Homo sapiens: one gene and its partners. The protein of the gene in region 3 purifies or fractionates together with the protein of the main gene of each other region. This does not show direct contact. Each region holds a gene or a part of one and is shown on either strand. Other genes may lie near its edges.

Region 1 (4,173 bases), on a different chromosome or scaffold from region 3:
CTGAGGCAGGAAACAATTGTTTGAACTCAGAAGGCGGAGGTTGCAGTGAGCCGAGATCGCGCCACTGCACTCCAACCTGGTGACAGAGCAAGACTGTCTCAAAAAATTTTTAAAAATAAAAAATAAATTAAAATTAAAATTAAAAAAAAAAACAGGCAAGGAGAAGAGGCCGGAGAGGTTTGACTTTTCACAAATCATTAATTAAACAACTATCTACTACTGAGTGTTTACACCAGGTGCTGGACATCTTTAGGTCAGCGTGTACGGCAGTAACATCTTCAACGCGTAGCTGCAGACAGACTGAATGCAAATGGAAGAACACAGTGGCACGGGAGGGAGCGCGCTGATGGGAAACTCAGGGGAGAAAACAGTTCAAGCAGGCCGGGCACGGTGGCTCACGCCTGTAATCCCAGCACTTTGGGACGCCAAGGCGGGCAGATCGCCTAAGGTCAGGAGTTTGAGACCAGCCTGCCCAACATGGAGAAACCCCATCTCTACTGAAAGTACAAAAACTAGCTGGGCGTGGTGGTGCCCGCCTGTAATCCCAGCTACTGGGGGCCGAGGCAGGAGAATTGCTTGAACCCAGGAGGCAGAGGGGTGCAGTGCGTTGAGATTGCGCCACTGCCCTCCAGCCTGGGCAACAGAGCGAGAGTCCATTTCAAAAAAAAATAAGTAAATAAAAAAGAAAATAGGTCGAGCAGGCTGCCGCTGATGAGCTCCATGACCTTGGGTATGTTATTTAACTTGTTCACAAGTCTGAGTCCATGGGGTATATAATAATACTACCTTTGGCCGGGCGTGGTGTCTCACACCTGTAATCCCAGCACTTTGGGAGGCCGAGGTGGGCAGATCACCTGAATTCAGGAGTTTGAGACCAGCCTGGCCAACATGGTGAAACGCCGTCTTTACTAAAAATACAAAAGTAGCGGGGCAGAGCAGTGCACGCCTATAATCCCAGCTACTTGGGAGGCTGAGGCAGGAGAATCACTTGAACTCAGGAGGCAGAGGCTGCAGTGAGGCGAGGTCGCACCATTGCACTCCAGCCTGAGCCACAAGAGTGAAACTCCGTCTCAAAAAAATAAATAAGAATAGTACCTTCACCTCACAGGACCGTTGTGAGGAACAGATGAGATAACCCATCTCAAGAACAGTGCCTAGTGCATGCCAAACACCCTAAAGGCACTATTTAGAATGAGCACAGTGGCTGGCACAGTAAGCAACTGACCATCCACCACATATTACTGTTGTCCCAGAAGTTAAGTCCTGGCTACTGGCCACAGGCTGGACAAGGGAAACTTCCAGAGCATTTTCTGGGTTCCAGGCCCTGCTTTGGGGTTCCTCTACCAGAGTCCGAGTGCCGCTGACTGTCACTGCCACCATTCATCCAGTAGCAGAGGGCAGACCACTATCGTGGGCTGCTGAGGTTGCACTCTCACCTGAGCCGCTGGGAAGAGATGTTCCTTATCCACCTGGGCTGCAATGGGAAACAACTCCTTCTCGGCAAAGTCCCGGCATGTCTGGAGCAACATCTGGTGTGTCTCGGGCAGTTCCACAGACTGGTAGATGGTGTGTAACTGCCGCCAGGCCCTAGGACAGAGAGCTGCCGGCAAGGGCAGAAGTGAGTGGAAGGAGGAGGCAGGAGGTCTCCAAGAATCCTAGTGACCCACTAACTCACCAGGGAGGATTTTGCCCTCCAAGGGACATCTGGCAATGTCTGGAGCCAGTTCTAGTTGTCACAACTAGAGCAGGGGAATACTATTGGTACCCAGTGGATAGGGGTCCGGGATCCCTGCTGAACATCCAACAAGGCAGAGGACAGCCCCCACAACAAAGAACTGTCAGCCCAAAATGTCCATGGCGGCCACTGAAAACCCCATACTAACTGAATGCTTAGTACACTCACTAGACATTTCCATACACTACATCCTTCAGTCCTCAGTATAATACCAACAGTAATAAGACCTCAGCTCTGTGACCTTAGGCAAGGGTTTTAAACGTCAGTGAGCCTCCGTTTCTATAACAAGTGGAGGCGAATAGTATTCCGCTCCTCGGAGTGCGAAAGAAAGACTAACTAGCGCTTAACACAGTTCTCAGTAGCGTTCCCCTTGTAATTCAGGCCAGGCAAAGGAAGCCGTGGCTATATGTGTCACGGCTGCTACAACTGGAGACACGTAAGATGGGAAAGGTACTGTATTAACCAGCAAGAACGAGCATTTGTGGAACACCTGTTACACGCCAGGCACGAAGTGCTTTACATACCCTATGATTTAATCCTCCCAACAACTCTGATTTTCTCTGTGGACATTTTACACATGGGCCAACCGAGGCTGAGGAGGGGCTGTCTTGCCCAAGGTCACAGATGCGGGTCTGGTTCAATCCCAGGCCTGGCTCCGGAAGAAGGACGCACCCTGAACCTCTAGTGGGGGTGAAATGAAGGGAGGGAGATATGGGAACTGGGAACTGGGCTGGTGGCTGGGGTCAATCGGGGGGTAGGGGTCTGTGCAGGAACCAGGGACGCCTGAAGGGCCGGGCTGGGTCGGCGCAAGGAGCAGCAGAACTGGGGCAAAGGCCGTGAGCGCTCCCGGAGTGGGGCTCCGCCTGCCAGCGGCTCTGACAGAGCCGGCCGCCAGGACCTCCGCCCGCTGGGCCAGACGCGGGCTGAAGCCCCGCCGTACGGATCCCCAGCGCACTCACCTCTGCGGGCAGGGCCCGAGGCCCGGGCGAGCAGCGCGGCGGCCATGGGCGACAGACACAGTCCCAGGCTTCGCGACCTCCCGCTGCGAGCGCGCTGTTCCGGAGTGCTGGGGGGCGGGACCCGGGACAGAGGCCACGCCCGTAGGGCCTCGGGAGCGGGGCCGAGGTGCGCTCGCGGCCAGGGGGCGGGGCCTCCAGTGGTCCCTCCCAAGGCGAGGAACCGACGCTCGACTGCGCGCGCGGTCGGTCAGCTGGCTGTTCGTGCCCACATTCGTTAATCAAAATGCTAACAAGAGAAAGCTAAGGATAGAGCTTCGCAGAAAGGCCAGAGAGGTCTTTTTAAAGCATAAATAAGATAGCGATCTTCGGGTTAAAACTTTGTTGGCTTTGTCGGCGGGCCCATCCCTCCTAAAATCCAATTCTATGGCTTAAAAAGCCAAGACCTGCCTTGTCTATCAGGGCCCATGCCCACCGTTCCCTGGTTATTGTTGCTTAGCTTTACGAGGCAGCTCTTCTCTAAGACCCTTAGCTGGTTCCTGACTCGGGGCCTCTGTGATCACTGTTCCTTTTGTCTGGAATGCCCCCTCTTCGTTTAGGTCTCATGGATGCCTGCCCTGACCACACCAAGCCGTTTCTCCCCCTCTGGCTCTCTATCTTTCGTTCTGTTTATTCAAGGCACTTTGCATCTGAAATTATCTGCTTCCCCGACTCGCTCCGAGAAGCTCAAGGACCTGTCTTGTGTTGGTGCTCAATATTTAGGCCCCTGGAGTTGGGCTGCAAGGAAAGCTTTCTTTTCCCCAGAGGCTGTGAAGGTGGGTGGAGATGCTACCCCCGTTCCACTTCAGTACTGTGTCTCATTCCCGATTGGGGCAGAACCCAGACACATATTTGACCCCTAGCATCCTCATCAGGACACCTTTGCCCCGCCCAAGAAACTATGCTGATTTTACTTGTCCCATAAGGGTCTTCTCTTGTGCAAGTGTGATTCTGATTCCCATAGCCTCCTGGGCACCACCCACGCCCTCCCAGGCACCCACACATCCCTCCAACTGCCTTTCTTTCCCAGCACTCAGCCAGGCAGGCATCTGTTCCCAGCATTGACCTATTTGCCAAAACTTCTGTCTCTTCCTCTTGGAGGAAAGTGGAAACCTCGGTCACTACTTCCTAGAAGAAAGCCAATCAAAAGATGCAGCAAAGTCCTTAATGTGTTACCTTTCTTTTTAAATAATGCATTTAAAAGAACGCCTCTAAATTCTCAGTACTTTAAAGTCAAATGAATGGCTCCCATTGGCAAATGCTCTAAGGGCTTCCTCACCTTTCCGTCATCCCACCTGGGAACCAGCCCTGGGTGGAAGAAACGATGAAGAAGCAGGAGAAAAGGGAGAAATAAGTGAGTTGTGTTTGTGAGCAAAGGCCAATAATTGCTTCAGGTGCCACAGAGCATCTAAACCAGACTCTTGAGAATTTGTGACTGTAAAT
Region 2 (3,917 bases), on a different chromosome or scaffold from region 3:
GTAACTGGGTAGTGTGCATCCTGGGGAAAGTGAGGGAAATATGGACATCACATGGAACAACATCCAGGAGACTCAGGCCTCTAGGAGTAACTGGGTAGTGTGCATCCTGGGGAAAGTGAGGGAAATATGGACATCACATGGAACAACATCCAGGAGACTCAGGCCTCTAGGAGTAACTGGGTAGTGTGCATCCTGGGGAAAGTGAGGGAAATATGGACATCACATGGAACAACATCCAGGAGACTCAGGCCTCTAGGAGTAACTGGGTAGTGTGCTTGGTTTAATCTTCTATTTACCTGCAGACCAGGAAGATGAGACCTCTCTGCCCTTCTGACCTCGGGATTTTAGTTTTGTGGGGACCAGGGGAGATAGAAAAATACCCGGGGTCTCTTCATTATTGCTGCTTCCTCTTCTATTAACCTGACCCTCCCCTCTGTTCTTCCCCAGAAAAGATAGATGTGGTACCCATTGAGCCTCATGCTCTGTTCTTGGGAATCCATGGAGGGAAGATGTGCCTGTCCTGTGTCAAGTCTGGTGATGAGACCAGACTCCAGCTGGAGGTAAAAACATGCTTTGGATCTCAAATCACCCCAAAACCCAGTGGCTTGAAACAACCAAAATTTTTTCTTATGATTCTGTGGGTTGACCAGGATTAGCTGGGTAGTTCTGTTCCATGTGGTGGAACATGCTGGGGTCACTTTGGAAGCTGCATTCAGCAGAGTGCCTGGCTTGCGCTGGGCATCCAAGGTGGTCCCTCATCCTCCAGGCTCTCTTTCCATGTGATCTCTCAGTGTTTAAGAGTTAGTTGGAGCTTCCTTACAGCATGGCGGCTGACTTCCAAAAGGGATTATTCCAAAAAGAGCCTCAACATGCAGGCGCTTATTATGACTTCTGCTTGCATCATCCTATTGGCCAAAGCCAGTCACGTGGCTAAGTCTAGCCCCCTGTGAGAGGAGACTGCATAAGAGTGTGAACACCAGGAGACACGGTCACTGGGGGCCACCACTGTAACCATCTACCACAGGACCTGAATCTCTGTGTGCTACTCCCTTGCTCAAGGGCCCCCCTACCCACGCAGACCTGCTGTCTTCTAGCAAAGCCCATCCTCAGGACCTTTCTCTTCCAATCCTTATTGACTCAAATTGATTAGTTGGTGCTCCACCCAGAGCCCTGTGCTCCTTTATCTCATGTAATGTTAATGGGTTTCCCAGCCCTGGGAAAACATGGCTTTGTCTCAGGGGCTTGCTGGATGCAAGCTTAACCTCAATGTGAGTGGCCATACTGTGGCACTGTCCCATCCCTCACCAGGGACACTGTTCTGGAGGGTGACTGCCTGTTCTGTGAGGAGTGGGGATGGCTAGGACATTGCATGGAACACACCACCACCCCATCTTCTCAGAGCTCAAACCCTGACAGAACACCAGCTCCACAGGCCTTGGCTTCTGCTGATGGTGCCGTGTATTTACCAGACTTAGTGGTCCAAGGCCAGAGTGGCCAGATTTCCCAAAGTCAAGGTGTGACAGTGGGACAGCCTCTTTGTGTCTTTGCTGTCCTAAGAAACCTGGGCCAGGCCAGGCGCAGTGGCTCACGCCTGTAATCCCAGCACTTTGAGAAGCCAAGGTGGGCAGATCACGAGGTCAGGAGTTTGAGACCAGCCTGGCCAACATGGTGAAACCCTGTCTCTATTAAAAATAGAAAACATTAGACAGGTGTGGTGGTGCATGCCTGTAATCCCAGCTACTCAGGAGGCTGAGGCAGGAGAATCGCTTGAACCCAGGAGGTGGAGGTTGCAGTGAGCCGAGATTGTGCCACTGCACTCCAGCCTAGGCGACAGAGCAAGACTCCGTCTCGGGAAAATTAATTAATAAATAAATAAACCTAGGTCCCAGAGTCCCACAGAATGGCAGACAGGAGCACCTGGGGGCTTTTAGGGTATGGCATTTCCCCTGTACTAACTCTGGGCTGTCCAGAGGGCCATTTCATGGCGTGGAGTGGAGAGGGAGGCAGCACAGGACTTCCTAGGCCTCAGCTCTCACCTGCCCATCTTTTGATTTCCAGGCAGTTAACATCACTGACCTGAGCGAGAACAGAAAGCAGGACAAGCGCTTCGCCTTCATCCGCTCAGACAGTGGCCCCACCACCAGTTTTGAGTCTGCCGCCTGCCCCGGTTGGTTCCTCTGCACAGCGATGGAAGCTGACCAGCCCGTCAGCCTCACCAATATGCCTGACGAAGGCGTCATGGTCACCAAATTCTACTTCCAGGAGGACGAGTAGTACTGCCCAGGCCTGCCTGTTCCCATTCTTGCATGGCAAGGACTGCAGGGACTGCCAGTCCCCCTGCCCCAGGGCTCCCGGCTATGGGGGCACTGAGGACCAGCCATTGAGGGGTGGACCCTCAGAAGGCGTCACAACAACCTGGTCACAGGACTCTGCCTCCTCTTCAACTGACCAGCCTCCATGCTGCCTCCAGAATGGTCTTTCTAATGTGTGAATCAGAGCACAGCAGCCCCTGCACAAAGCCCTTCCATGTCGCCTCTGCATTCAGGATCAAACCCCGACCACCTGCCCAACCTGCTCTCCTCTTGCCACTGCCTCTTCCTCCCTCATTCCACCTTCCCATGCCCTGGATCCATCAGGCCACTTGATGACCCCCAACCAAGTGGCTCCCACACCCTGTTTTACAAAAAAGAAAAGACCAGTCCATGAGGGAGGTTTTTAAGGGTTTGTGGAAAATGAAAATTAGGATTTCATGATTTTTTTTTTTCAGTCCCCGTGAAGGAGAGCCCTTCATTTGGAGATTATGTTCTTTCGGGGAGAGGCTGAGGACTTAAAATATTCCTGCATTTGTGAAATGATGGTGAAAGTAAGTGGTAGCTTTTCCCTTCTTTTTCTTCTTTTTTTGTGATGTCCCAACTTGTAAAAATTAAAAGTTATGGTACTATGTTAGCCCCATAATTTTTTTTTTCCTTTTAAAACACTTCCATAATCTGGACTCCTCTGTCCAGGCACTGCTGCCCAGCCTCCAAGCTCCATCTCCACTCCAGATTTTTTACAGCTGCCTGCAGTACTTTACCTCCTATCAGAAGTTTCTCAGCTCCCAAGGCTCTGAGCAAATGTGGCTCCTGGGGGTTCTTTCTTCCTCTGCTGAAGGAATAAATTGCTCCTTGACATTGTAGAGCTTCTGGCACTTGGAGACTTGTATGAAAGATGGCTGTGCCTCTGCCTGTCTCCCCCACCGGGCTGGGAGCTCTGCAGAGCAGGAAACATGACTCGTATATGTCTCAGGTCCCTGCAGGGCCAAGCACCTAGCCTCGCTCTTGGCAGGTACTCAGCGAATGAATGCTGTATATGTTGGGTGCAAAGTTCCCTACTTCCTGTGACTTCAGCTCTGTTTTACAATAAAATCTTGAAAATGCCTATATTGTTGACTATGTCCTTGGCCTTGACAGGCTTTGGGTATAGAGTGCTGAGGAAACTGAAAGACCAATGTGTCTTTCTTACCCCAGAGGCTGGCGCCTGGCCTCTTCTCTGAGAGTTCTTTTCTTCCTTCAGCCTCACTCTCCCTGGATAACATGAGAGCAAATCTCTCTGCAAAAAAGATATGGGGCAGCACTGTCCACAACAGCCTCTGCTGGAAACAACCCAAGCACCCATCACAGAATGAATTAGTACATCATGTATCTGCACACAACACAGTGCTCCTTGGCAAAGAAAATGAATGAATTACAGCCAGCTGCACCTCACAAGACAGATAATCTTACAAACATCATGTGGGTACAAGAATCACAAAAGCATGCATAGAGTGTGATTCCATTTCTACAAAGTTCAAAACGGGCAACATGGGGCTGTTGTGTGGAGGGCTGTGGAAACAGGTGGTGCAGAGAGAAGCAAGGCCATGCTCTGTCTGAAGGCCCAGT
Region 3 (4,229 bases):
TGCTTCATCGCCCCTTCACATCCAACTCATCACCAAGTCCTATTGATTTTGCTCCTACATTTCTCTGCAGCCTTCTTAGATCTCTTTTTCTTCACTCTCACCCTAGTCCACACTCCAGCTCCATTCTCTCTTGCCCAGATGACTGCACTGGCTCCCAGGCCAGTCCCACCATAGCTCTGTTGAGACTTCTCCATTTTGATCTGCACTTTAGCAGCCAAAGTGAGTTTTATAAAATGCAATTTTGACCAGTGTTCTATGGTCCTAAACTTTCCACTATGGTCCATAAAATCCTACATGGTCCTGCCCCTTCTATTCGCTCTAGTGGATCTCACTCCACTCCTTTATTCTCTAAACTCTGAGTTTCTTTTCTTTTTGTGGTAAAATGTACATAACCATTTTTAAGTGTGCAGATCTGTGGCATTTGGTACATTCACATTGTTGTGTGATCATCACTACTATCCATTTCCAGAACTGTTTCATCTTCTCCAGCTGAAATTCTGTACCTATTAAGCACTAACTTTCCATTTCCCCCTTTCTGGGTTTCTTTTCATCCCTCAAAGGAGCTCTGCTGCCTTCCACAGAGTTCTTATATACATGCTAATCTCTCCATCTGAAACACACTTCCTCTCCCCTTTGCCTAGTTAGCCTCCTGTGATTCCCAACACCAGCCTAGAAGCTTCTGTAAATTCTCCCAAAACCCCTGCTCCTCCCTGAAGAGCAGTTTGTATTTATACAGGTGTTTGATTGTTTGAAGGGTGCTCTCACCCTGCCTCCTCTCTTAACATAGTTTTTCGTGTCAGGAATTCCTCGCTTTGTCCACAACCCCTGGCACATAGCAGGTGCTCAATACTTGCTAAATGAATAAATGGACGGACTCTGCTACCTACCTAATCTCCTTCCAGCCAGTCATCCATCTGTGGGTGCCTCGGTCCCCAGCTTGGGGTGTGTCCCCCTGGGTCGGACTTTGGCGCCCCATCCAGGCTGGCAGTAGGTTGTGCTCTTTGGTTTGCCTATCTCGGGCCTCCCGCCCAGCCGCGCGGACCGCAGAACATACGCCCCGGGCGTTATCACTCTGTCACGCGGAGCCTCCCCGCCTCCAGACGTCAGTCCGGTTGCTACCCCGGCAGGAATCGAGCTTAGATCACGAAGGCTCCTTCTCACCTCCGGACGTGAGAATTACAGGCTTGGATCTCAAACCGCCGCGGTGAGAGCCGGGAGGTGGGAAGAAAGTTGGGAGGCGCGCGCCCCCGTCACACTCCCTCTCCGTTTGGGTCGCAGCCCTTTAAGAACCACTACGTTCGCGCCTTCGCCGGGACGGGGGCTGTGGAGGCGCGCCGGGATTGGTCGGTTTGGGTGCGGGTGTCGCTTAGCAGCAGCGAATGCGGGGTAGGGGGGAGGTGGGGTGGCTCAAGACTCGCGCACGCGCACCACGGCCTACCTGCGCCTGGGCTGCCGGTGACCTGGGCCGAGCCCTCCCGGTCGGCTAAGATTGCTGAGGAGGCGGCGGGTAGCTGGCAGGCGCCGACTTCCGAAGGCCGCCGTCCGGGCGAGGTGAGGGCTGGCGGGCGGAGGCGGGTGCCGCGGCCCGTTAGCCAAGAGCAGGCGGGTTAGGGTGTGGCGCAGGGCGGGCCCAGAGGTGGAGGCGGCCCAGGGCCCACCCGGCCCTCAGTCCCGGCCTTGACCATGGGGCTCCCCACGGGGCTTCACTGGGCTTCTTGGAGTCCTCTGTCCCCTTTCTCCCGTCAGCCTGTTCCCGGACCCCGGGGCCACCCAAGGCACGCGCCTGCAGGAACCCTGGGCTGACAGATGGGCGCCAAGGGCTTCTCCCAGTTGGAAGAGATGGGGAGTGAGAAAGGGGACGATTGTTTCTTTAACCATTCACGAAGCTCACGTCAGAGCATTGTTTAATCTGAATAGCAAACTTCCCTTAGCATGCCCGTGTTATTAGACTTTAAATATTGGATACACTGAACCAACTTTTCAGAGCACTAGGTGTAGGACGTTCCATTACAGGTTTTGTGTTCATTACAGATTTACACATGTACCTCCAGAGCCAGAAGGATAAAGCACTCGGGGAAAAATTAGGTTTGTAGAAATAAAAGCCACGGAAGACTATTGCCAGTGTGAAAAGTAATTGGTGAAATTTGTGACATGGTCAGAAAAAAATACAGCTCAGAACCAACATATAGGGTAATATTTAATTACATTTTGCAGAGAAGAGTTGATCCCACTAAAGATAATTTTAGTAAAATGAAAAATGGAAGCAACTGGAAATGGTTTAACGTTGCCAGATAGAATTAAATAAACAAATAGTGTTTCCTCTGGAAAGTACATTTTGGACAATGTTAATAGCTCTGATTTAAGTGTTTGCATTTGCAACAGAAGCCATCTTGGAGTCAGTGTTTTTTATTCTTAGAATAACTTAGAAATCAACTAAATTCAAAAAGTAACATGATCATAGAGAGGACAACCTGACTTCAAGGTAATACAGTGGATAAAGAGCAGTTGTAACAAGTGTAATCTCAGGCTCCTTCCTCTACCAACAGGTCTCTGATTAGCTTATTAGTGCTCTAAGGAGAAGAAATTATTTTAGAGAAAGGGAGTAGCTGTAATTCCCAAAGTTGGATTTGTAGAAGAAGGATGTGGTGGAAAGATCCTAGGCTTTAGAATATTTGAAGTAAGGAAGTCTGGGTTGAATCTAGCTTTACCTCTTGAGCCTTACAGCTGCAGTTTTCCCACCTATCCGGTATAGATTATGTCTACCTTATAGTTACAAGCATTTAATAACATTATCAGTGTAAAAGGTCCTATCAAGTTTAGTTCCCTACCCCTCTTAGTTCCTAACAAATGACGAAACTGACCTCTACCCTCCTCTTCACTCCATCCCCAAGCAACTTGGAGCCTTAATAGAATCTACAGATTTGGTAACCAGTTCTCAAGTCCTGTGGCTGAAGGTGAATTCAGTAAGGGTGGCACAACTCAGTTTTGTCTTCTGTATTGTGTATTTGAGTCTTCTGTATTCTGTATATACTTTATGGTGAACACTTTGTGTTTGAATATTTGTGTGCCAAATGAAGCCTGTTTTGTCTAAATTCCTATTTTGCAAGGTGCAGTCATCTCTCTCTTTCTCTCTGTTTTTCTCTTTCTTTCTGTCTCTCTCAGCCTCTCTCTCTCTCAGTGCATGTGGTAGGGGCTTGAGGAGGGGTTAAGGGTAAAAGGTGGAAGAAAAAACAGGATCAAGGGTAGCCTGCAGCATAGGCATAAAGTCTTTGTTAATAGAACAGAGATAATCTATGACATGAGCAGTTTATAAACAGATGCTGGGAAGAAGATTTAGGAAATAAGGGAGGCAAATTAAAATATGTTTTTATAAAACCTAGTAACACGGATGCTGTGTATTTGATTACTACTTCACTCTACTTTTAGACAAATTTCATCTGTATAAACCTTTCTCTTTTTCTCTCCAAATACAGATTTATTGTGGAAAAGTGTTCAAACTGTAGATCAGAACTATGGCAAGGGATCTGTAAACCTGCATTTCTTGTTTCAGTGAGCAAAAATAAGGCAGCCCTTAGGTCATTCATTCATTTAACTTAGCAGTGTTTACTGAGTGCTTCCTAATATGTACCAGGCAAGGTGGTAGGTTATGACATCCACTGCCTTGTGGAAGGATCTGGTAAGATCTGGAAGACATTCCAGTGTCTCTTGTATGAACATTCTGAAGCTGCCTTTGTCCTTGTGGAATTGATTTTCTTTTCTTTTCTTTTTTCTTTTCTTTTTTTTTTTTTTGTTTTTTGAGACAGGGTCTCACTTTGTTGCCCAGGCTGGAGTGCGGTGATGCAGTCGCAGCTCACGCAGCCTTGACCTCCTGAGCTCAAGTGATCCTCCCACTTCAGACTCCCAAGTAGCTGGGACCACAGGTGTGTGCCACCATGCCTGGCTTTTTTTTTTTTTTTTTGTAGAGATGGGGTGTCATTGTGTTGCCCAGGCTGGTCTCAAATTCTTGGACTCAAGCAGTCCTCCCGCCTCAGCCTCCCAAAATGCTGGGATGACAGGTATGAGCCACCATGCTCAGCCTGCTTTCCTAGTTTTTTGTTTTGTTTTGTTTTGTTTTGTTTTGAGATGGAGTTTTGCTCTTGTTGCCCAGGCTGGAGTGTGATGGCACAATCTCAGCTGACTGCAACCTCTGCCTCCTGGGTTCAAGTGACTCTCCTGCCTCAGCCTTCTGA
Region 4 (3,500 bases), on a different chromosome or scaffold from region 3:
CACCATCAGTGCATCCACCATGCCACCCCCAAGTGCTCCTACAATGCCCAGCTGTCCTGTCATTCCCCTGGGAGACATGTGACATCCCCCGCCCTCGCCCCTAGCTCTCTGCGGTTGAGAGGCCGAAGCTCCCTGGACCGGCCTGCCAGGCCCTTAATCCAACTAAGAGGTGCTGGGCCAAGAGCAGGGGACACAGAGAAATCAGAGACGAGGAGCCCCACAGTCTGGCCAGAGGTCAGGCAATGAATAGCCAGCTCTGACAGAGCCTCTGTGCCCCCGTGGAAGCACCAAGGAGAGCATCGTGGGAGCCCAGACCACGGGGCGAGTCTCTGCCAACAGGATCAGGAAAGCAACAGAGAGGAAGTGACTGAATCCAAGAAGCACAGAAAGAAAAAGGCATTCCAGGCAGAGGACGCACCCTGGATGAGGGCGTCTCCTTCCTTTCTCTGACACAGCTTCAGCTCCAGGAAGGTGGGCTCCTTGCTGGCCCCACCTGGAGCTCCTCTGTCCAGCTGTTTATGCACACAGCAACCTGGGCATGCCTCTCCCAAGTGCCTAACCGTGCCAGGTGCTGGGTTCAAAAACCTCCCCCTCAAGAGAGGCTGCCACATGCCTCGTGTTGAGAGACCAATGCCCCAGGAGCTGTGGGATCCCTCCTCCCCAACAGAGCCAAATCCTTTCTTTCAGGGCTTTCAAGTTCCACTCATCCTGGGACCCACTCCTTCCTGATCTTGGCCTCGCTGCTGCCCACGTGTAGAATCAAGTCACTCTCTGACCGCTACGTGTTGTTCTGGGCTTAACCCTTGCTGAGTGGTCGGTTCTGAGAAGGCAGAAATTGCCTCTTGTTTTATGTGTCTTCCTATTCCTCTGTCCAGTCCCCTGTGGACACAGGGTAGGTGCTTAATAAGGATGGAATCTTGGACTGTCTGAAGGACCCTCATTGCTCATTGGTCCCCTGCCCCCGCCCAGCTCCAAACACCAGGTGTGTACCATGAGCCAGGGACCATGCTGTATTTTGTCCCCTCCCATTTCATCCTCATGATGCCTTGAGACAGGCATTGTTACTCTTATCTCCATCTTAGAGATGAGGAAACTGAGGCTCTGGTGACTTGCCCAAGGTCATACAGGTGGAAACACAAAGCTAGTATTTCCACCCAAATCTGTACAACTCCAAAGCTCAGATTCATTTATCAGATGGGCAAAGTGAAGTTCAGAGAGCTTAAATGACCATGAGTCAGTCACTGAGCTGGACTATACACCCAAGCTCCAAACTGCCAGCCCAAGAGATTGTTCCAGAGCCCTACTGGGTCAGACCAGAGCAATCCCACATCCCCACCGCCAAGGAAACATCCAACCAGAGGAATCAACAGAAGGCAGCAAATTGCCAAGCAGTAGGGGCATGAAAGGGCAGGGCCCTCCTCACCGACAATGAGGCCTATCTCGCAACGGGGGTCCTCATAGCCACAGGACATCATGGTCCCCACCGTGTCATTGACAATGGCAACCACATTCAGCTCCACTGCCTGCACACAAAAGGATGCTGCTAGTTGCTGGGCAACGCGGTCGTCACAGCAACCAGCACTGGACCCAGAGGTCTCTACCGCAGAGGGCTCCCCCCTCAGAAAGTAGGAGACTCTTTGCTCCCCTCAAGGCCTGCCACAGCCCCAAAGCACCCCTAGAACAGGCTCCTACCTGTCTGCGAGTGATGGCTTCCCGCAACAGACTCACGACATCTTGGCCCTCGCAGTCTGATGCCTTGAAACCCTTGGTCCAGTTCAGGAGGATGCCCTGGGGTGAGACCGAGAGGAAGTGGCAGGAAGCTGGAGGCCCCTTCAGGCTCACTCTGCCTCTGCAAAACCTGCATCCATCACAAGCCTAGGCTTTCCACCCTCCCCAAGCACAATTCCTTGCCTACTTTGCTGTATGGTTGAAGGCCTTGCCCTCTGCCCGCTCCCTACTCCCCAGGAGGCTTTCGGTGTGCAAAAACCTATTAATAACCATCTAACCTACATTTTCCATTATTAGTTCCAGACAGTCAGAGGGTCTGGCCATTTTAAGACGTGTGCCCGGAAGGAATGGCCCTTTGTAATTGGGTTAGGAATTAACAGAGCTGGTAAAGTGAGTGCTGTGTGTGAGACAGGGGAGGACAGAGAAGGCTCAGAGGCCCAGATGACAGCAGATCCCACCCTTTCAGAAAGAACTCCAAGTTACTCTAGAGGAAGGAATTCTCAGCTTCAGGGATAGAGCCGTGTCAATGGGCGAGTCACTCATGTGTTCCAAATGCAGGGGCAGGAGGAATGGAAAAGCCAGAACCCAGGCCCCTGGGCAGGATGAAGGCTGAGTGCCCAGATTGTGAGAAAAGGGACTTAAACTTAGTGACACGGGGCTCAACTTTACCTGGAAAGGAATGCTGTTTTCTTAGTGTGCGTCCTCTGAGGGAGGGGGCAGGGGGAGCAGGAATTAGTCTACAGCTGTTGGGAGAAAATTACTGCTTTGCTCAGAGGAGGAGCATGGAGGGTAGGTCAGGAAATCTTTGGGGCAGAAGATTTTAGAAATAGTAAGCAACGTTTTCCTCCAATAATATGTCCTTTTATCCCGTTTTTTATTGTCCTAGGCTCATTGTCTCAAAAACAGAAAGCAGAGAATGTGATAGAGTGAGAGAAAGAACCCGTTTGAGAGAGACCAGATGATGAGTAAGAGCCCTGTGTGGGCTGCTCTCCCTAGAGTGGGGAAGGGGAGGCAAAGGGGGAAGTCAGACCCAGGTTGCTGATGACTTCCTGAGACAGGTGTCCTATGCCCTCCCCACTGGGCTGAACCCCTGTTCAGAAGGGATCTGAGAAATCTGAGAACAGAGGAGGCCTCTGCCCTCCTTCCCCAGATAATGCACAGGAAGGTGTCGAGACTCAAGAGAGGAAGTGGCAGAGGCAAGTGCCCAAAGAGCAGGGCCCGGGGCACCTCCCTGAGTTCCCACATCCCTGCAAATTCTGCACAGCAAAGGCTGCTGCAGAGCCAAAGGGGCTCCTGGGGAAGGCAATCCCCACACTGGTTAAGTTTTCACCCCTGAAAATAATGTGGGCCCAACATTTTTTTTTTAAGATGGAGTCTTGCTCTGTTGCCCAGGCTGGAGTGCAATGGCACAATCTCAGCTCACTGCAACCTCTGCCTCCCGGGTTCAAGTGATTCTCCTGCCTCAGCCTCCCGAGTAGCTGGAATTACAGGCACACACTGCCACGCCCGGCTAATTTTTGTATTTTTAGTAGAGATGGGGTTTCAGCATCTTGGCCAGGCTGGTCTTGAAATCCTGATCTCATGATTCACCCGTCTCAGACTCTCAAAGTGCTGGGATTACAAGCGTGAGCCACCGCGCCCAGCCTTCAGCACAGAAATTAAGTTCAGTTACAGAAAATTAATAAGACTATATTTCTTGCCCCCACCCCGCCCCCCGATTTGCACATGGAGTCTCACCTGCTTCTCACATCTTACAAGGAATAATCAAAAGG

What was found. The genes of interacting proteins can lie anywhere in the genome.
Region 1: the proteins of SEC22C (region 3) and ACADS purify together in Homo sapiens (affinity purification with mass spectrometry; 3 studies listed by BioGRID and IntAct, with this or other methods). This does not show direct contact.
Region 2: the proteins of SEC22C (region 3) and IL1RN purify together in Homo sapiens (affinity purification with mass spectrometry; 3 studies listed by BioGRID and IntAct, with this or other methods). This does not show direct contact.
Region 4: the proteins of SEC22C (region 3) and HK3 purify together in Homo sapiens (affinity purification with mass spectrometry; 2 studies listed by BioGRID and IntAct, with this or other methods). This does not show direct contact.

Annotation. Positions count from the first base shown.
Region 1 is NC_000012.12:120,724,453-120,728,625, reverse strand, and holds the start of ACADS (short-chain specific acyl-CoA dehydrogenase, mitochondrial isoform 1 precursor), read right to left. Parts: upstream 2,801-4,173; 5' UTR 2,741-2,800; coding exon 2,695-2,740; intron 1,601-2,694; coding exon 1,437-1,600; intron 1-1,436. UniProt on the Homo sapiens protein: Short-chain specific acyl-CoA dehydrogenase is one of the acyl-CoA dehydrogenases that catalyze the first step of mitochondrial fatty acid beta-oxidation, an aerobic process breaking down fatty acids into acetyl-CoA and allowing the production of energy from fats.
Region 2 is NC_000002.12:113,130,598-113,134,514, forward strand, and holds the end of IL1RN (interleukin-1 receptor antagonist protein isoform 1 precursor), read left to right. Parts: intron 1-447; coding exon 448-560; intron 561-2,058; coding exon 2,059-2,274; 3' UTR 2,275-3,417; downstream 3,418-3,917. UniProt on the Homo sapiens protein: Anti-inflammatory antagonist of interleukin-1 family of proinflammatory cytokines such as interleukin-1beta/IL1B and interleukin-1alpha/IL1A.
Region 3 is NC_000003.12:42,579,168-42,583,396, reverse strand, and holds the start of SEC22C (vesicle-trafficking protein SEC22c), read left to right. Parts: upstream 1-1,429; 5' UTR 1,430-1,551; exon of another isoform or gene 1,552-1,557; intron 1,558-2,918; exon of another isoform or gene 2,919-2,954; intron 2,955-4,229. UniProt on the Homo sapiens protein: May be involved in vesicle transport between the ER and the Golgi complex.
Region 4 is NC_000005.10:176,882,347-176,885,846, forward strand, and holds part of HK3 (hexokinase-3), read right to left. Parts: coding exon of another isoform or gene 3,480-3,500; exon of another isoform or gene 3,465-3,479; intron 2,472-3,464; exon of another isoform or gene 2,398-2,471; intron 1,789-2,397; coding exon 1,693-1,788; intron 1,524-1,692; coding exon 1,424-1,523; intron 1-1,423. UniProt on the Homo sapiens protein: Catalyzes the phosphorylation of hexose, such as D-glucose and D-fructose, to hexose 6-phosphate (D-glucose 6-phosphate and D-fructose 6-phosphate, respectively).